Linked DNA regions of Homo sapiens. The protein of the gene in region 2 purifies or fractionates together with the protein of the main gene of each other region. This does not show direct contact. Each region holds a gene or a part of one and is shown on either strand. Other genes may lie near its edges.

Region 1 (7,122 bases), on a different chromosome or scaffold from region 2:
TGGCTGGACTTCCAGCAGTCATTCTGGACCATGAGGCCTTGCCTTAGAGCTTTACTAGTTACATATCTTCTCCCTCTTAAAGGGAGGGAGGCTAAGGCTGACACTAGCAACAAAATACGTTGCAAAAGGAAAAAGGGAGCTTAAGTCCCTGATAATTGTGGAGCCTCCATACCTGGAGTGCCTATATCTCAGCTTCTCTTATGTAAGAGATAAATTAATGTTTCCTCTTTAAGCCAATTAGTTAGGTTTTCTATCAAATGCAACCAAACCTAATTCTGATTTACCATCTACCTTTCATTTTCTCTTTATTGGTAGACATGAGTTCAAGAAATATCTCACTTTGCTCTTAGTGCTACTATGAGAAAAATATTGCAAGCTTGATGATAAATGACACTTGATACCTGGCCTCTGAGTCAAAGAACAACAAGGTAGGGTGGGAATGGTAAAGAATGCGAGATGCAAGTGTCCACCTTATCTAATAGTGGTCACTACTATGAACCAGCTTAGTAATCCCATAAATAAATGTCTCCTTTTTTTTTATTTTAATGAAGATGAGGTCTATGTTGCCCAGGCTAGTCTCGAACTCCTGGACTCAAGTATTCCACCTGCCTCAGCCTCCTAGCTTGTGCTGGGATTACAGGCGTGAGTCACCGCCCCCCGGCCAATGTCTCCATTTTTGAGGGCACTCAAAGAAGTAAAAATTGTATTCTCTGCTCTAGAGGAATTTGCAGAAGGATATGAACTGAGAAAAAGAAAGATGGGTTCCAGTTCTGGCTCTACCTCCAATTCTTGTATTATTTATTTAATCTCCACAGAACTCAATTTCTCCCTCCATAAAATATGAGGGCTAGACTAAGTAAACACTAATTTCCCTTCTTATACAAATTCTGTGATCCCGTTTTCCTCGGATCAAGAGTTGTCGCTTGATGAGGAGCTGGGATGAAGGTGAGGTGCTGATAGTTAAGCATGCCTTAGAAGAACAACTCTCAATTACTTCTTCTTTGCCCTTCTTCCTCCTCCTAGTTCAAGTTCCTCCTCCTCCAAGTAACCCTACCCTTACTCATCTCCCTTCTAATGGATTCCCACAGCATTCAGTCAGATAAGAATTGTCCAGCACACAGGCTGGGCTCTCTTGCATTGGATTCATTAAGCCCATGACCCCACCTTTTCTTCTCTCCCTCTGGACTTCCAGAAGGCTATGACCGAATGTGATATCTCTCTGAATCAACCAATGCCTATCATAAGGCTGGATGCTGACTCAAACTGTGCAAGCTGGCTGACAAGACCTGGAAAAGAAGGGTCTAGGTCCAACAGAAGGGCTTGGGCACACGGCAAGAGAAGCCTGGCTGAGCTCCAGGTTAGGTGTGTAAATTACGGCCCTTTGTCAGGGGCCAAAGGAAAAAAACTATCTATTTTAAGGCAGGATATCGGCCAGTGGATGGCTGAAGTGAGTACTTAACAGTGCACAAGGCGCCAGGCGCGGTGGCTCACGCCTGTAATCCCAGCACTTTGGGAGGCCAAGGTGGGCGGATCACGAGGTCAGGAGATCAAGACCATCCTGGCTAACACGGTGAAACCCTATCTCTACTAAAAATACAAAAAAATTAGCCGGGCATGGTGGCGGGTGCCCGTGGTCCCAGCTATCTGGGAGGCTGAGGCAGGAGAATGGCATGAACCCGGGAGGCGGAGTTTGCAGTGAGCCGAGATCACGCCACTGCACTCCAGCCTGGGTGACAGAACAAGACTCCGTCTCAAAAAAAAAAAAACAAAAAAACAAACCAAAAAAAACAGTGCACAAGACTGGGCGCGGTGGTTCACACCTGTAATCTCAGCACTTTGGGAGGCCGAGGTGGGTGGATTGCGAGGTCAGGAATTCGAGACCAGCCTGGCCAACATGGTGAAACCCCATCTCTACTAAAAATACAAAAATTATCCGGGTGTGGTGGTGGGTGCCTGTAATCCCAGCTACTCAGGAGGCTGAGGCAAGAGAATTGCTTGGAACCAGAAGGCGAAGGTTGTATTGAGCTAAGATCGTGCCACTGCACTCCAGCTTGGGTAGAAAAGCGAAACTTCTTCTCAAAAAAAAAAAAAAAAAAAAAAAACAGTGCACAAGGCCTTCGCTGGGCTACTTTACTGAGACAAATAAGATGTGGGCCTATCCCCAAGGAATCCACTTTTTTTTTTTTTTTTTTTTTTTTTTTGAGACAGAGTTTTGCTCTTGTTGCCCAAGCGGAAGTGCAATGGCGTGATCTCAGCTCACTGCAACCTCCATCTCCCAGGTTCAAGCGATTTTCCTGCCTCAGCCTCCCAAGTAGTTGGGATTAGCCCACCACCAGGCCCGGCTAATTTTTTGTATTTTTAATAGAAACGGGGTTTTACCATGTTAGCCAGGCTTGTCTTGAACTCCTGACCTCAGGTGATCCACCCGCCTCAGCCTTCCAAAGTGCTGGAATTATAGGCGTGAGCCACCGTGCCCGGCCAGAATCCATCATCTTTAAGAGGGAGAAGATATATAACTAGTAAAGCCCTAAGGCAAGGCTAATGTTGCAAGGGCGATACCCATGCTGTGGGAGCGTAGGAGACAGGCATCATTTCTGAACCGGCCAGCAGAGGTCGTAAGGACAGACGTCCAGGAGGTGGCACACTTGAGCTGAGGCTTGAAAGTCAAAAGGATGACTGGGCAGGCAGGATATCAGCCAGTGGATGGCTGAAGTGAGTACTTGACACAAGGGGCCGGGCGCGGTGGCTCATGCCTGTAATCCCAGCAATTTGGGAGGCCTAGGCGGGCAGATCACAAGGTCAGGAGATTGAGACCATCCTGGCTAACAGGGTGAAACCCTGTCTCTACTAAAAGTACAAAAACAAATTAGCTGGGCGTGGTGGTGGGCGCCTGTAGTCCTAGCTAGTAGGGAGGCTGAGGCAGGAGAATGGCGTGAACCCAGGAGGCGGAGCTTGCAGTGAGCCGAGGTCGTGCCACTGCACTCCAACCTGGGTGACAGAGTGAGACTCCATCTCGAAAAAAAGAGAAAAAAAAAGAAAGAAAAAAAAAAAGAAAGTCAAAAGGATTTGGACAGCCAAGGGTGAGGGAATTCCAGGGAGAAAATTTAACAAGAGCAAAGGCAACAGAGAGTAGCAGAGTAAGGTTAAAGCACATAAAGCCTAGAAGAGTGACATATAAAGCATATAAATGGTGGCTGCAGGCAGATCTTATCATTTTAGTTGGTAGGCTAAAGAAATGGGCTTAATCTTAGAGGAAAAGTAAACAGATGAAGAGGAGTGTGTATCATGTGATCAACTGATCAGAGCCCTACTTCAATCTGACTTCAGAGAACTTGCTCAGCAATCTTTCTTGACCAATTGACAGAGAAAGAGAGGAACTAATGAAAAAATACACAAGCTTAGAAAGTAAGTACTACCCTCCACTCTGACTTTGGGACTAGAGAACCTACCATATTCTTTTTTTGTGTGTGTGTGAGACAGGGTTTCACTCTGTCGCCAAGGCTGGAGTGCAGTGGCAGGATCTCAGCTCATTGTAACCTCCACTTCCCGGGTTCAAGCAATTCTCCTGCCTCAGCCTCCTGAGTAGCTGGTATTACAGGAGTGCACCACCACACCCAGCTAATTTATGTATTTTTAGTAGAGATGGTGTTTCACCATGTTGACCAGGCTGGTCTGGAACTCCTGACATCAGGTGGTCCGCCTCCCTCGGCTTCCCAAAGTGCTGGGATTACAGGCGGGAGCCACTGCGCCTGGCCGAACCTACCATATTAAATGTACCTGGGACTAGGTGAGGTGGGGAGCTCTCTCTGCCCAACACACCAGCACCCTGACTTACGGCAACAGCCAGTCTGAAGCAACGCTAGTGTCTTTCCCCCAGGAGCTGCACATAGGTCAAGCACGATGTCCCCAGGCTGCAGGCCGAGGGCCAGAACAGGCAGCAAGGAGGCAGCATCCATCAGGTAGTACTCCATGACACCCAGGCTGCCAGGTCTGGAAAAGAGGAGACCACTTTATTGTTAAATTCCAGGTCAGGACACCCACTGGGAGTCTAGGCCACCAAGTCTATGCCCTCTGGGGCTTGAGCTCCAATCACCAAAAACTCATTTTTCAGACCCACACTTACTTATTCACTTATTCATTCATCTATACGGGAGCCAGAATGATTATTTATTTACTGATTGATTGACTGACGGAGTTTCACTTTTGTTACCCAGGCTGAAGCGCAGTGGCACGATCTCGTCTCGCTGCAACCTCCACCTCCCAGGTTCAAGTGATTCTCCCGTCTCAGCCTCCTGAATATCTGGGATTACAGGTGCCCGCCACCATGCCTGGCTAATTTTTTTTTTTTTTTTTTTTTTTGAGACACAGTCTCGCTCTGTTGCCCAGGCTGGAGTGCGGTGGCGCAATCTTGGCTCACTGCAACCTCTGCCTCCCAGATTCAAGTGATTCTCCTGCCTCAGCCTCCCAAGTAGCTGGGATTACAGGCTTGTGCCACCATGCCCAGCTAATTTTTTGTATTTTTTAGTAGAGATGGGGTTTCACCATTTTGGCCAGGCTGGTCTTGAACTCCTAACCTCAGATGATCTGCCCGCCTCGGCCTCCCAAAGTGCTGGGATTACAGGTGTGAACCACTGTGCCTGGCCAATTATTGTTTTTAAATAGCTGTCTTCCTCACTAAACTGGAAGCTCTATGAGGGCTTGTTCATCAAGGCACTTAAATGCCTAGCATTTGGTAGATAATTTTTTTTTTTTTTTTTTTTGAGACAGAGTCTCGCTCTGTCGCCCAGACTGGAGTACGGTGGCACGATCTCAGCTCACTGCAACCTCCACCTCCTGGGTTCAAGCAATTCTCCTGCCTCAGCCTCCCAAGTAGCTGGGACTACAGGCGCACGCCACCACACCCAGCTAATTTTTTTGTATTTTAGTAGAGACAGGGTTTCATCATGTTGCCCAGGCTGGTCTCAAACTCCTGAGCTCAGGCAATCCGCCCGCCTCAGCCTCACAAAGTGCTAGGATTAAAGGCGTGAGCCACCACACCCGGCCAATATTTTTTAATAAATAAATCAGTCTTTCAAAAATCAATTCCCATACCCTACAACTAACATTGAGCTCTCCTTAATTGTTAAAGCATAATTCAGCATTTGATTCTGCAGTCTTTTCTCATTCAACTTCATATACATGAGGATTGAATCAAGAAACTGAACTTCTCCTTTCTTTTTCCCAGTCTAATACCAAGTTTGTGCCCCTAGACCAGCCCTATTTCCTAGGAAAGTCCCACTACCTCTTTGCTACCATGAAGTTACTTTTCCTATTCACTTTGATGGGTGGCTGTGAGGGCAAAATGAGAAGACTGCTGTGAATAACACATTTCAACTTGAGAGGGCCCAGTGAGTGCTCATGTAAAAGGTGGCTGTTTTCTACCAGAGGCACAGAGCAGAGTGGGTTCAAAGTGCAGGTTCTGGGTCTAAATATTAGTCACACCACTTACCATCTGAGGGACCTAAAGCAAGTAAGAATCTTAACTTCTCTGTACCTCAGTTTCTCCAAATGTAAAACAGCAATAATATTACCTACTTCATAAGGCTGCTGACAGAACAAAAAGAGATAACATATGTACAGCACCTCAAAAAAATGCCTAGTCTGTATAAACATGCCATAAATATTAGCAATATTATGGTCCTTATTACAGAGGGTAGAAGCTGGGTCTCAACATGTCTACTTCCAGCAGACACTCAGGACCGCTCCAGTCATGGCTCCAGATCCTACCTGGCAGGAGGGAAGCGACTGATATCCCCTCTGTCAAAAGTGAAGCATCGAAGGTTCGGACTGCAGGCCCAGGAGGCAGGGGATGGGGCTGCAGATTGGCCACCCTCAGACTGCAGTTCCCAGTGGGAGATGGCTTCATTCACAAAATCCTTGGCACTCAGCTGCTCCAGCTTAGCACTTACATGATCCCAGGCAGCAAAGTTATTGACCAGTGCACCATACTTCTGCTCTGAGAGGAGACTGACACGGATTGATGGCCAAAGATCTCCAAACTGCACACTGTAAGTCATGTCAAAATTCTGCAAAGCCAGTCGAACAGCAGGGAATTTGGGCTCTGTGGCAGCCTAAAAGAGAGAGGACAGGCTTATTGGTTTTCCCAGTCTTGACTCTACCCCCTACTACCTGACCCCCACCTCAGAGCCTAGGGGCAAACTTGGATCCAGCTAGTGCCCACTCCTGCTTTTGCATCCTGCCTGCCTGCCAGAGAAGTGTGAGAGGGAAAAGTAGTGGAGAGTGGGCCTTCCCATCCCAGGGTTGTCAGATAAAGATGTAACTCTCACGGTACTGTGCGGGGGTCATCAAGAAGGGGGACCTTGGAGAAAGAGGAACTTAGGAATATGGGAGCTCAGGAGAGGACTCTTGAGGAGAGCCTGCAGAAGATTAGGAGAAACTATGGAGGCTCTGGGAAGCTTTGAACTTAAAAGCAAAAGGCCCTTTTCTTCTGAACAGTTCTATTTTCAAAGCACTTTCATGTCTACTAGCTTATGTGAGCACTACAACTGATAGCTCAGTAAGATACAAAAAAAAATTAACAACATTTCAATTTGATGAAGAGATGTGGGTAACTTACCTAGCGTCACACAGTGACTAGCACCACCATGCTTAGAATCAGAGGTTTGAGGGTCATGCTGGGAGAGTTCCCAGACCCCAGAAAGGTTGGATAAGGAGGGCCCACAGAATCTTGAGGTGTGAACCAAAACAGGGACTTCTAGGATGACTGCTATGGGGGTAGCAGGGGACAAGAGGACAAGAACAAGGAGGCAGAGTAAAAGAGAAATGAAGACTTCAGATGAGGAGTGCACAAGTCGGTCCTGGTTGCTGCAGCTGGGATGCTTGCTATAGCTGGCAATCTTGTTACTATCTATGCCTTGCTCTGGCCTAGATTTTTGGTCTGGTCAGAACTTTTGCTCTGGCCCTCATTTCTTGTTATGGTGAGGACTCTTGCTCTGTGACTTTTGCCTCGCTGGGACTCTTGCTCTGGCTCCTGCTATGTTGGGGACTCTTGCTCTGGCCTTGACCTTTGCCATGTTGGGGACTCTTGCTCCGGTTCCGACTTTTGCCATCATAGACTCTTGC
Region 2 (7,122 bases):
AGTGCAGTGGCGCGATCTTGGCTCACTGCAAGCTCCACCTCCCGGGTTCATGCCATTCTCCTGCCCCAGCCTCCCCAGTAGCTGGGACTACAGGCACCCACCACCACGCCCGGCTATTTTTTTTGTATTTTTAGTGGACAGGGTTTCACCGTGTTAGCCAGGATGGTCTTGATCTCCTGACCTCGTGATCTGCCCGCCTCAGCCTCCCAAAGTGCTGGGATTACAGGCGTGAGCCACTGCGCCCAGCCAGAATTTTCTATAATAGGAGACTTTAATTATTTCATGGAAGCAGCAGCCAGGGTCCTAAAGAAGAGGAAATAAAAACATGCAAACTCGGATTCATGATAAAACATCAAAACATAACATCAAAGACTGAAGGAAATCTTAAAAGCAAACAGAAGAGAGATTACTAAGGAAAACAAGACAATCAGAATGATAGCAAAACATCTCATTAGCAACATATGCCACAAGACAATGAAGTAATATTTTCAAAATGCTGAGGAAAAATAACTAAGAATTCTATATTCGGGAAGCAATGATAAATTAGACATTTTCAAACAAAGATTGAGAGTTTACCACTCTTAAACTCTGGCTGAACAAATTACTAAAGGATGTCCTTCAGTACGGATTCCTTCTTGAAGTGTTTTTAAATCCATAAAGTGCACAGGGTTACAGGCCGGTCGCAGTGGCTCACCCACCAGCACTTTGGGAAGCTGAGGTAGGTGGATCACTTGAGTTCAGGAGTTCAAGACCAGCCTGGGCAACATGGCAATACCCTGTCTCTACAAAAAAGTGCAAAAATTAGCAGAGTTTGGTGGTGTGCCTATAATCCCAGCTACTCAGGAGGCTGAGGCGGGAGGATGGCTTGGGCCTGGGAGGTCGAGGCTGCAGTGAGCCATGTTTGCGACACTACACTCCAGACTGGGTGACAAAGCAAGACCCTGGGTACTTTAGTAGTTATATATACATGTGTATATATATGTGTATATATGTATATATGTGTATATATGAATATATGTGTATATATGTGTATATGTATATGTGTGTATATATGTGTATATACATATACACACAAAGCAAGACCCTGTCTCACACACACACAAAAATATTTATAGTATTTATTTATTTATTTATTTATATAAAAATATTTATATATTTTTGTGTATATATGTGTGTATTTTTATGTGTATATATATATACACACACACACACACACACACATACAGAAAAGAAGTAAATTATACTAAAATACAGTTACTTTGGACATGTATGTACAAAAAATTGAATTTAGACACACACTTTACACCTTTCCCAAAAATTAACTCAAAATGGATAATAAATCTAAGTGTAAAATGCAAAACTACAAAACTCCTAGAAGGTAACATAGGAGAAAATCTACATGCCCCTGGATTTGGCCACGACTATTTAGTTACAACACCAAAAGAATGTCCCAGGAAAGAAAAAAATTGACCAGTTGGACTTCATTAAAATTGAAAACTGCTCTGTGAAAGATGCTGTTGAGATAATGAAAAGATAAGTCACAGACTCAGAGGAAATCTTTGAAAAACACATATTTGATAAAGAACTGGTGTCCAAAATATACAAAGAACTCTTAAAACTCAATAACGAGAAAACAAAAACCCAATTGAAAAATGGGCAAAAGATCTAAACACCTCCTTTTACATAGATGACAAATAAGCATAAAAAAAGATGTTCCAGGGCTGGGTGTGGTGGCTCATGCCTGTAATCCCAGCACTTTGGGAGGCCAAGGTGGGTGGATCACCTGAGGTCAGGAGTTCAAGACCAGCTTGGCCATCATGGTGAAACCCCGTCTCTACTAAAAATACAAAATTAGTTGGGTGTGGTGGTGTGCACCTGTAACCCCAGCTACTTGGAAGGCTGAGGCAGGAGAATCACTTGAACCAGGGAGGCAGAAGTTACAGTGAGCTGAGATCGCACCATTGCACTCCAGCCTGGTCAAAAAAAGTGAAACTCCGTCTCACAAAAAAAAAAAAAAAAAAAAAAAGATCTTCCAAATCATATGTCATTAGAGAATGGCAATTTAAAACAACAATGAGATACCACTACACATCTATTAGAATGGCTAAAATACAAGACACTGACAACACCAAATCCTGGCAGTGATGTGAACCAATAGTAACTCTTACCCACTGTAGTTGGGAATGCAAAAACAGATACTTTGGCAGTTTCCTAGAAAGTAAACATAAACTTACCATACAATCCAGCAATCACGCTCCTTGGTACTAAATGTGTTGAAAATTTATGTGTACACAAAACCTACACATGAATGCTTATGGCAGCTTTATTTGTAACTGCCCAAACTTGGATGTGACCCAGATGTTCCTCAATAGCTCAATGGATAAACAAACTGTGGTATATTCATATAACGAAATATTATTCAGCAATAAAAAGAAATGAGCCATCAAGCCATTAATAGACATGGAGAAACCTCAAATGCATTTTGTTAAGGGAAGGAAGCCAATCTGAAAAGGTTACATACTGTATGATTCCAACTATATGGAAAAGGTAAAACTATAGAGACAGTAAAAAGATCAGTGGTTGCTACGGTTTCGGGAGAAGAGAGGGATGAACAAGTAGGAAACAGCGGATTTTTAGGGCAGTGAAACTATTCTGTACAATACTATAATTGTGGATACACGTCATCATGCATTTGTCAAAACTCACATAATGTATAACACCAAGACTGAACCCTAATGTAAGCTACGGAATTTAGTTAGTAATAAATCAATATTGACTCAATTGTGACAAACATATTACACTAGTATAGGATGTCAATAACAGGGAAAATTGTGTGCGTGGTGAGGGAGAAAGGGCACGTTTGGGAACTCTCTGTACTTTTCCATCAATATTTTTCTGTAAGTCTAAAACTGCTTCCAAAAAACCATCTATTGATAAAGAGAAAATTAAAAAACAATAAAAACAGCAACAACAAAAACAATATCTTGACATATGGGAAGATGAAAATTAAAACGTTCTAAGTTCCTCATATTGTTTAGGAGAAACAGATGTTAATTATCTTTAGACTTTCAGTCAAATAATGCATATCAAAAATTCAAAAGAAACTGCTAAACAAAAAGAGGATGAAGTAAAACAACTCTCCGTTATAAAGCAACTCTATTCTTTTTAACTGTGGCAGCTTACCTGAGATTCCAGAACCTCCAACTTATGTTTCCTTGCATGAAGAGCTTTACTTGGAAAAGCCCAATAATAATTAGAAGTTCCGATCCTCTCACAGTCAACCATACCATCATCAACTAAGCTTTGAAGGACTTCTTTTACTGACATAGCAGCTAAGAGACAATTTTTAAAGACTCTATGTTAGAAAAACACCATAAATAAAATTAAAGGACAAATAACTGGGGAAACACTTGCAAAACATATCACAAATCAAGAGTTAAAAAGTTAATAAGCTCTTAAAAATAACAACATGCACAACAATGAAACTGCCTAAGGAAACATTTCTTAGAATGTATCCCCATCCTTAAGCAAAGCATGACTTATACAGGAGCCTAGGGGAAAACAAGTAATATACAGGATTAAGAACAGGACCTGAGTTCTAATCCTAACTCTTAGCAGTAACACTGGATGACTCTAGGGCAAATTGTTCTTTATGCCTAATTTAAAAAATCTATTAGATATGATCATTTCCATACTTACTTTGGTGCATAGCAGTAATGTCAATAAAATGTTACTTGTGAGAAGCCTTTGAAAAAGCAAAACAAAACTACAGAAATGCAAGTTTTTCTCTCCCAATAGATTATCTAGTAATAGAAGATGCTAGCATCAGTGCTTAGTAAATAATTTTAATGGTGTTAACACTCATAGTCTGTTGCTATATGGTATCTTTTCCTTTTCTAAATAATGTTTCTTTTTTAAAAAAGATGTTGGGTAATTTGGCCATCATCTTATACTGCAGAAAAAAATTGTCAATAACTGGGAGGGAAAATAGGTAAGAAGAAAAGGAATTTAGTTAATACAATAAATTTTTCCATCTTGTAGACTGGATTGAATTTTGTTTTTTGTTTTTGATCCTTCAAGATACAGTTGAGATTCCATTACCTACAATTTGTCTGGGGACATTAGGACACTGGTGTAATTAATATTGTATAGTTGACCCTTGAACAGTACAGGTTTGAACTGCATGGGTCCAGTTATATACATGGATTTTCTGCCACCTGAGACAGCAACACCACTTCCTCCTCCTCCTCAGCCTACTCAATGTAAGATGACAAGGATGAAGAACTTTATGATGATCCACTGCCACTTAATGAATAGTAAATACATGGTATGGCTTCCTGTCAACAGCAGGCTATCAGTAGTTAAGTTTTGGGGGAGTCAAAAATTACATGCAGATTTCCAATTGTGTGGGGGATTGGTATCCCAATCTTGAACAACATAGGTGTTGTTCCAGGGTCAACTGTGTATTTAAACTTAAGAAATTTGCATATCTTTAAGAAGTAGCAGAACCAATTGTTCACTGATGACTGTAAAGAGAATAATTGTGTGGTGTACATAAAAGTGTGAGGGACTCTCAGTGGTTGTCTGGTTTCACTTGTATGTATACTCATAATAAAAGAGGTTTTTTCATTTTGAAACAACACAACAAAAGACACACAAAAAATACATCAATGTGCATCTATAAAATATGCATGGTGGCTCATGCCTGTAATCCCAGCACTTTGGGAGGCCAAGGCAGGTAGATCACTTGAGGTCAGCGGTTTGACAACAGCCTGGCCAACATGGCAAATCCCCATCTCTACTAAAAATACAAAAATTAGGTGGGCATGGTGGCAGGAGCTTGTAATCCCAGCTACTCATGAGGCTGAGGCAGGAGAATCGCTTGAACCCGGGAGACAGAGGTTGCAGTGTGCCAGGACTGCACCACTGGGCTCCAGCCTGGACCACTGGGCTCCAGCCTGGGTGACAGAGTAGACTCTGTCTCAAATAAATAAATAAACAAATAAATAAATAAATAAAATAAAATATGCATGGCCAATATATGAGAAAAATGTTCAACCCCATTAATAACTGAAGAAATCGAAAATAAAGCAATTAGACATGACTTGACTACCAAATTAAAAACACTAAAAAATACAATAAAGAATTCAAGGATACTTGAATGGGTACTCTCAGTATGGGTGGAGAAACGTGGCAATCTGTATCTAAAACTTCAGATTTATACATATCTTTTTTTTTTTTTTTTTTTTTTTTGAGACTGAGTTTCACTCTGTCACCCAGGCTGGAGTGCAGTGGCGCGATCTCGGCTCACTGCAAGCTCTGCCTCCTGGGTTCACGCCATTCTCCTGCCTCAGCCTCCTGAGTAGCTGGGACTATAGACGCCTGCCACCACGCCCGGCTAAGATTTTTTTGTATTTTTAGTAGAGACGGGGTTTTAGTAGGCAGGATGGTCTTGATCTCCTGACCTCATGATCCAACTGCCTTGGCCTCCCAAAGTGCTGGGATTATAGGCGTGAGCCACCACGCCCAGCCCAATTTATACATATCTTTCCTGGGGAAATTCCACCTTATAAATACAGCCAAACAAAAAATAATAGATATGTAGAAGGATGCCTGTCAACACATTGTTTTCGACAGCAAAAGAATTGGAAACCAGTCTAATAACTGGATTTTTATTTTAAAGACAGGATTTTGCTATGTTGCCTAGCTGGGCTGAAGTGATCCTCCCGCTTCAGCCTCCAGAGTGGCTGGGACTACAAGTGTGTGTGCGCTACCAGCCAGCTTATCAACTAGATTTTTAAAAGTATTTTTTTATTGCAATGGGATACTATACAATCATTTATGTTATAAAAGGATATTTAATGACAGGGATATATATTCAAAATGTAATATACAGGATGTATTATACAGAAAAATAAAGGACAACATGACAGTGGTTATCTTTGGATGGTGATGATTTCTTTGTCTCTAGAAATTTAGGTTTTCCATAAAGTGAAAGACTGTTGCAGAAAAGATGACTTAATGAATATTAAGATATTTCCCAAAACATCCCAGTATATTTCCCAAAACATTCCAGTATAACTTTGGTACTTACTAATGCCTTTCTCTTTGGGAGCAATCTTCTCCAAGTCTTTTAATTGAAATACATCTTTCTGTTTAAAGGGTTTTAAAGAAAATGAAAAGCACGTGTTTATTTTCTACTATGTATATTTTCATTTTTAAAAATTTTTATTATGGGTACATAATAGTTGTATACATTTACAGGGTATGTGTGATATTTTGATATAGGTATACAATGTGTTATGATGAAATTGTGGTAATTAGGGTATCCATCTCTTCAAACACTTATCATTTCTTTGTGTTAGGAACATTCCAATTTCACTCTTAGTATTTTTAAATATACAATATATTATTAACTATAGTCACCCTATCGTGTTCTACTACATATTTATATATACATCATAATTTTATGTTCATGAAAAATTGTATTTAAAAAATTGGCCTGGAAATGAACAGTATAATAGAATCAAGCATTTTAGAGCTTATTAGAAACTCTTTGATTATCTCATTCCATACCTTCAATAGAACTTAAGAGATTTTTGCATACATTTACAATTTGCATATATATACAATTTTTTTTTTGAGACATGGTTTCACTCTATGGCCCAGATGGGAGTACAGTGGCACGATCATGGCTCACTGCAGCCTTGACCTCCAGGGCTCAAACAATCATCCCACTTCAGCCTCCTGAGTAGCTGGGACTACAGACATGCACCACCATGCCTGGCTAATTTTTAAAAATTTTTTTAGAGAGAGGGTCTCACCATTTTGCCCAGGCTGGTCTTGAACTTCTGGACTCAAGCAATCCTCCCGTCTCAGCCTCCCAAAGTGCTAGGATTACAGAGATGAGCCACCATGCTTGGCCAGCAGCATACAATTATTTAAAGTTCTTGGAGATCAGAACATAAAGAACAATCTTCCCACTTAAGTATAAAAACTAGTTATAGGCCAGTCATGGTGTCTCCTGTCTATAATCCCACCACTTTGGGAGGACTGCTTGAGCTCAAGAGCTGGAGACTGGCCTGGGTAACACAGTGAGACCACTCTTGCACCACATCTCCA
Region 3 (4,339 bases), on a different chromosome or scaffold from region 2:
GCAGGCAGATCACTTGAGGTCAGGGGTTCAAGATCAGCCTGGCCAACATGGTGAAACCCTGACTCAACTAAAAATAGAAAAATTAGCTGGGCTTGGTGGCACGCACCTGTAATTCCAGCTACTTGGGAGGCTGAGGCATGAAAATCGCTTGAACCCAGGAGGCGGAGGTTGCAGTGAGCTGAGATGGCGCCACTGCACTCCAGCCTGGGTGACAGCAAGGCTGTCTCAAAAAAAAAAAAAAAGATTTTATATAGTGTGACAGGAGCCAGAGGTGGGGAAAGAGCAGCCTAAGGTGAGATGGATTAGGGGAGGTTTCTGAGTATGTCAGTGTTCCTGGAGAGGACTGTATAATTTGGCTTGGAGGTGAGGAATAGGAGTGGCTTTCTGTGCAGAATACATTTTGAGAGGGAAGGAGGAGGAGTTAAGACTAGAAGAAAAAATTGAGTGCCAGGGCAGAGACTCTTGTCTGCCTTGTTCACCGTGGGATCTTCAGCACCTAGTGCAGTGGTGGGCATATGGTATGTGTTCAGTGGGTTGATGCTGATAATGTGATGTTGATAAATATGTGTACATATAGCATTTGATGTTTAAATCAACATGAAATGGTCTTAGTGCTCTGTCTCTGTGATGTGATGTCAAACCAACATCTCTTGTAAAGACTTAGATTCTAGTCGAGTGTTTAGATTTACTCTGGAACATGAGAGATCTGGCCAGGTTCCTGGGATACTCGTGGAGTGGCCTTCCCTTCTATTTATCCCCCACTCCTGCCCCCAACAATATTCACATCTCAAGGATGCTCAAAGTTCCTTGAATCTCTTTAAGGGCCTTCTGGAGGAGTTGGGGGTCTCCAAGGACCCTTACCCACTTTGACCAGAGGAGTTCCACTATTATTTCTTTGCATTATTGACTCTTCCTGGTAAGATGTTTTTTGAGGCAGTGGTAGAAGGTTTAGGATCCACCATTTCACAGCATCTCTACAGGCCTCCTTCTCTAGAAGATAAGAAAAAGGTAGCCTTGTATATTTTTCTTAACAGATTCTTACAGTGTAATCTAAAAGTCTAAATATATTATGTGTGGTGGTGATTAATTAGCAAACTCAGCACAGCCTTAAGAAATGAAGATAAACCTAAACTGAAATTCCTCACATATTAAGATAATCACTAACTCAAATGTTAGGAAAATTTTAATTAACAGTTTAAATAGTTGACTTTAAGTTTCCCATTACTGAATTTTGCTCAGCTATCCCTAGGAAGGCCTGGAATAGTCCCAGTTTACACCAGTTAGTGCGGTTTTAATAGGGCCTCTTTCACTCAAGGTGCCCTGGCTTGGAGAAGATATATGGTGACCCTGGTAACCAGGACGTCAGCATTGGTGTTGTGTGTCCTCATGATTACTATTATTGTTATTACTGTTATGATGACGATGGTGATGGAACTCCTTTTCATTGAGTTCAGCTTGAGAATGTTAGTTGTGAATGCTTCAATGACTATTTTATTATAGAAGGAAACATCAACCCAAACCAGCAATATGGAGGAAACTACTCTCCCATATTACTCTCTGATCTTTCCAGTAAATGCCTGGGAAATTCTTTTCCAAGTGAGGAGGGCAAGAGGAGACCCAAAATACAAAGTTGGCACCTTTCAGGTGGGAGGCCAGAATAAAGCAGGAATATAGGGAGGGAAGGATGGTGAGTCTGAGGAGTGTCAGGAAGTCAGTGGGGAGATGTATCATTTCCATGGTGCTTCTGGGAAGATAGATCTGAAATTGCCACTTGCTCTGTGGAAGGAGAGGATCCTTGTTTGTTTTTAAATGTGGACTTAAATTGGGTGCAGCTAGCTCCTTGAGTTTCTGGAGTATCCTGAAATTATATGCTTGCCTTTTTTGAATGTTCTGCAGGGAAATTAAAGAGGGTGCTTTACTGTTGCCCTGAAATTTTCACCATGCGCCAGCAGGACATTAACGACACTGTCAGGCTTCTCAAGGAGAAGTGCCTTTTCACGGTACAGCAAGTCACCAAGATTTTGCACAGTTGCCCCTCTGTTCTTCGAGAGGACCTGGGTCAACTGGAATACAAGTTTCAGGTGAGAATGACTGATAGCGTGATTAGCGTAGTTTCAGGTGAGAATGACTGGTAATGGGATTAGCGTAGTTTCAGGTGAGAATGACTGGTACCGTGATTAGTGTAGTAACAGCAAGTTTCTCAGGTTTTTCAAATGTAGTGAAGGTCAGTTATATGGATAAGAAGCCTCGGACACCTCATATTTGAGTGGAGGAAGTGAAAGACTAGATTCTCTGCATACATCAGCCAAAGAGAAATCTTTAATTTCTTTACTACAGATCAAACCTATTCTTCAACTTTTCTGCCATTAATAATGAATGATCCAGTCCTATTCTTAGAGTCTAAGTGGGGACTCTGAAATAGCTAATTTTAAAATAGCTGAAACCTTCCTGTCCTTAGAATCTATTTTGCATGTTGATTTTGAAAATGTAATTTTAACAGTTGTCCGATTTTTTGGTAATAATTATGACAACTTAGGTCGAATTTCTAGATGTTTTCTGAATGTTTTGCCTATTCTTTCCATATTCATCCTTTTCCTTCCCCATTTAAAGAAAAATACCACCTCTTCCTTCTGCCCCTTCTCCCTCCTGCCCCTTTTCCCTCCCACCCCTTTATTTCCTGCTCCATGTTTCTCAGGATGAATTTGAAAGTGTTTTGAAACTGCTGGCTGTCACACAAATGTCAGTATCCTAGACTGGGTATTCGCTGTTGTCAATTAGGCAATTCTTTTTGAATCCTTTTGTACAACTTAAGTTTTTATGGTTTATAGAATGATAGGTTTCAATACTCTGTATCTGGGACTCCTAAGTGTGTTTGTGTCTTCCAGTATGCATACTTCAGGATGGGAATTAAGCATCCAGACATTGTAAAGAGTGAGTACTTGCAGTATTCACTAACCAAGATTAAGCAGAGACACATTTACCTGGAGCGCCTGGGACGGTACCAAACCCCTGATAAGAAGGGGCAGACACAGATCCCTAACCCATTGCTCAAGGACATTCTCAGAGTTTCAGAAGCTGAGTTTTTGGCCAGGACAGCCTGTACTTCTGTTGAGGAGTTTCAAGTTTTTAAGAAGCTCCTGGCTCGGGAGGAGGAGGAGTCTGAGAGCAGCACATCTGATGACAAAAGGGCAAGTCTGGATGAGGATGAGGATGACGATGATGAGGAGGACAATGATGAGGATGACAATGATGAGGATGACGATGATGAGGACGACGACGAGGCGGAGGACAATGATGAGGATGAGGACGACGACGAGGAGGAATAGCTGTGATGGAAGGACTAGAGCGAAAGGGCCCAGAGATATCAAGGAAGCTTTTCATTCTCTTAAAGCTTTTGGGTCCTTTACTTGAATCTTCTCAAGTTATTTTTTATTCTAAAACTGGTCTCTTGATGAAAAAAATTATAAGTCACCTGAGAGGCAGACAGATCAAACCAAACAGGAAACAGGAAATGCATGTTTGATCTGTTGTCACGTGTCTGTGGGGAGGGCCCTGTCCCATCCTGAATAAGATACTTATGTTGAGCTATTCACATCAAGGGGACTCAATATATCAACAATTGGTTTTATTTTTTTCTCTTTTGAATATGTTGGTGATAATTCCGTGACAGTTGGAAGATGGGGTTCATTCTTCCGGTTCAGGAATCACTATGTATTTCCTTCTTGTGATAAAAATAAAATTACGAGAAGGCAATGTGAGGTTTTAGTACATCATAGCACTTTATTTTATGAAAACATGTAGCAGATTTTCCACAAAAATGCTTATTTTTAATCCAAAAGTATATTGCTTCATAATGGTATTCAGTGCACAGCAGAGTAAAAGAAGTTAATTCATGATGTACTGGTTAATTTTGCATGGCTTCTTAAGGCCAGCAAAATGCTGGCAGTTTTCTTTATCTTTGTGAAGAACAGGCCCTTCCTGTTTGGGGAAGTTGGCTTTTATGTCAGCTCTTGGCCAGTGGTCACTTCCAAGCCTGGTGTCTCCGGCCCTGTAGTCTGTAGTGCCAGACTGTGCTGGCCTGGAGAGTGCTGGGGCAGGTGGAGGCCAGGGAATGGTCCCATACAGTTATCTCCCCTGCCCTGGTTACAGACAGCTTCGAGAACCAGAGGAGAAGAGCATAGGGTCATGGAGCAGGTGGGCTGAAGCCAGGGCCACAGGGAGCAATCCGTGACCCCCCAAGGTGGGTGTGGGGGGGGGGGGGGGCGTGTCACCTTAGGGAACTCAATGAGTCCGAAGAACAATTTGAAATGTTGGGAAAAGAGAAGAGGAATTTGATGTC

Evidence for each region.
Region 1: the proteins of MND1 (region 2) and NSUN4 purify together in Homo sapiens (affinity purification with mass spectrometry; 2 studies listed by BioGRID and IntAct, with this or other methods). This does not show direct contact.
Region 3: the proteins of MND1 (region 2) and MTERF4 purify together in Homo sapiens (affinity purification with mass spectrometry; 2 studies listed by BioGRID and IntAct, with this or other methods). This does not show direct contact.

What each region holds. Positions count from the first base shown.
Region 1 is NC_000001.11:46,343,789-46,350,910, reverse strand, and holds part of NSUN4 (5-cytosine rRNA methyltransferase NSUN4), read right to left. Parts: exon of another isoform or gene 6,617-7,122; intron 6,111-6,616; coding exon 5,767-6,110; intron 3,991-5,766; coding exon 3,836-3,990; exon of another isoform or gene 3,778-3,835; intron 1-3,777. UniProt on the Homo sapiens protein: Mitochondrial RNA cytosine C(5)-methyltransferase that methylates cytosine to 5-methylcytosine (m5C) in various RNAs, such as rRNAs, mRNAs and some long non-coding RNAs (lncRNAs).
Region 2 is NC_000004.12:153,354,684-153,361,805, reverse strand, and holds part of MND1 (meiotic nuclear division protein 1 homolog), read right to left. Parts: intron 6,153-7,122; coding exon 6,095-6,152; intron 3,333-6,094; coding exon 3,184-3,332; intron 304-3,183; coding exon of another isoform or gene 199-303; exon of another isoform or gene 1-198. UniProt on the Homo sapiens protein: Required for proper homologous chromosome pairing and efficient cross-over and intragenic recombination during meiosis.
Region 3 is NC_000002.12:241,094,985-241,099,323, reverse strand, and holds the end of MTERF4 (transcription termination factor 4, mitochondrial), read left to right. Parts: intron 1-1,896; coding exon 1,897-2,081; intron 2,082-2,885; coding exon 2,886-3,326; 3' UTR 3,327-3,753; downstream 3,754-4,339. UniProt on the Homo sapiens protein: Regulator of mitochondrial ribosome biogenesis and translation. Binds to mitochondrial ribosomal RNAs 16S, 12S and 7S and targets NSUN4 RNA methyltransferase to the mitochondrial large ribosomal subunit (39S).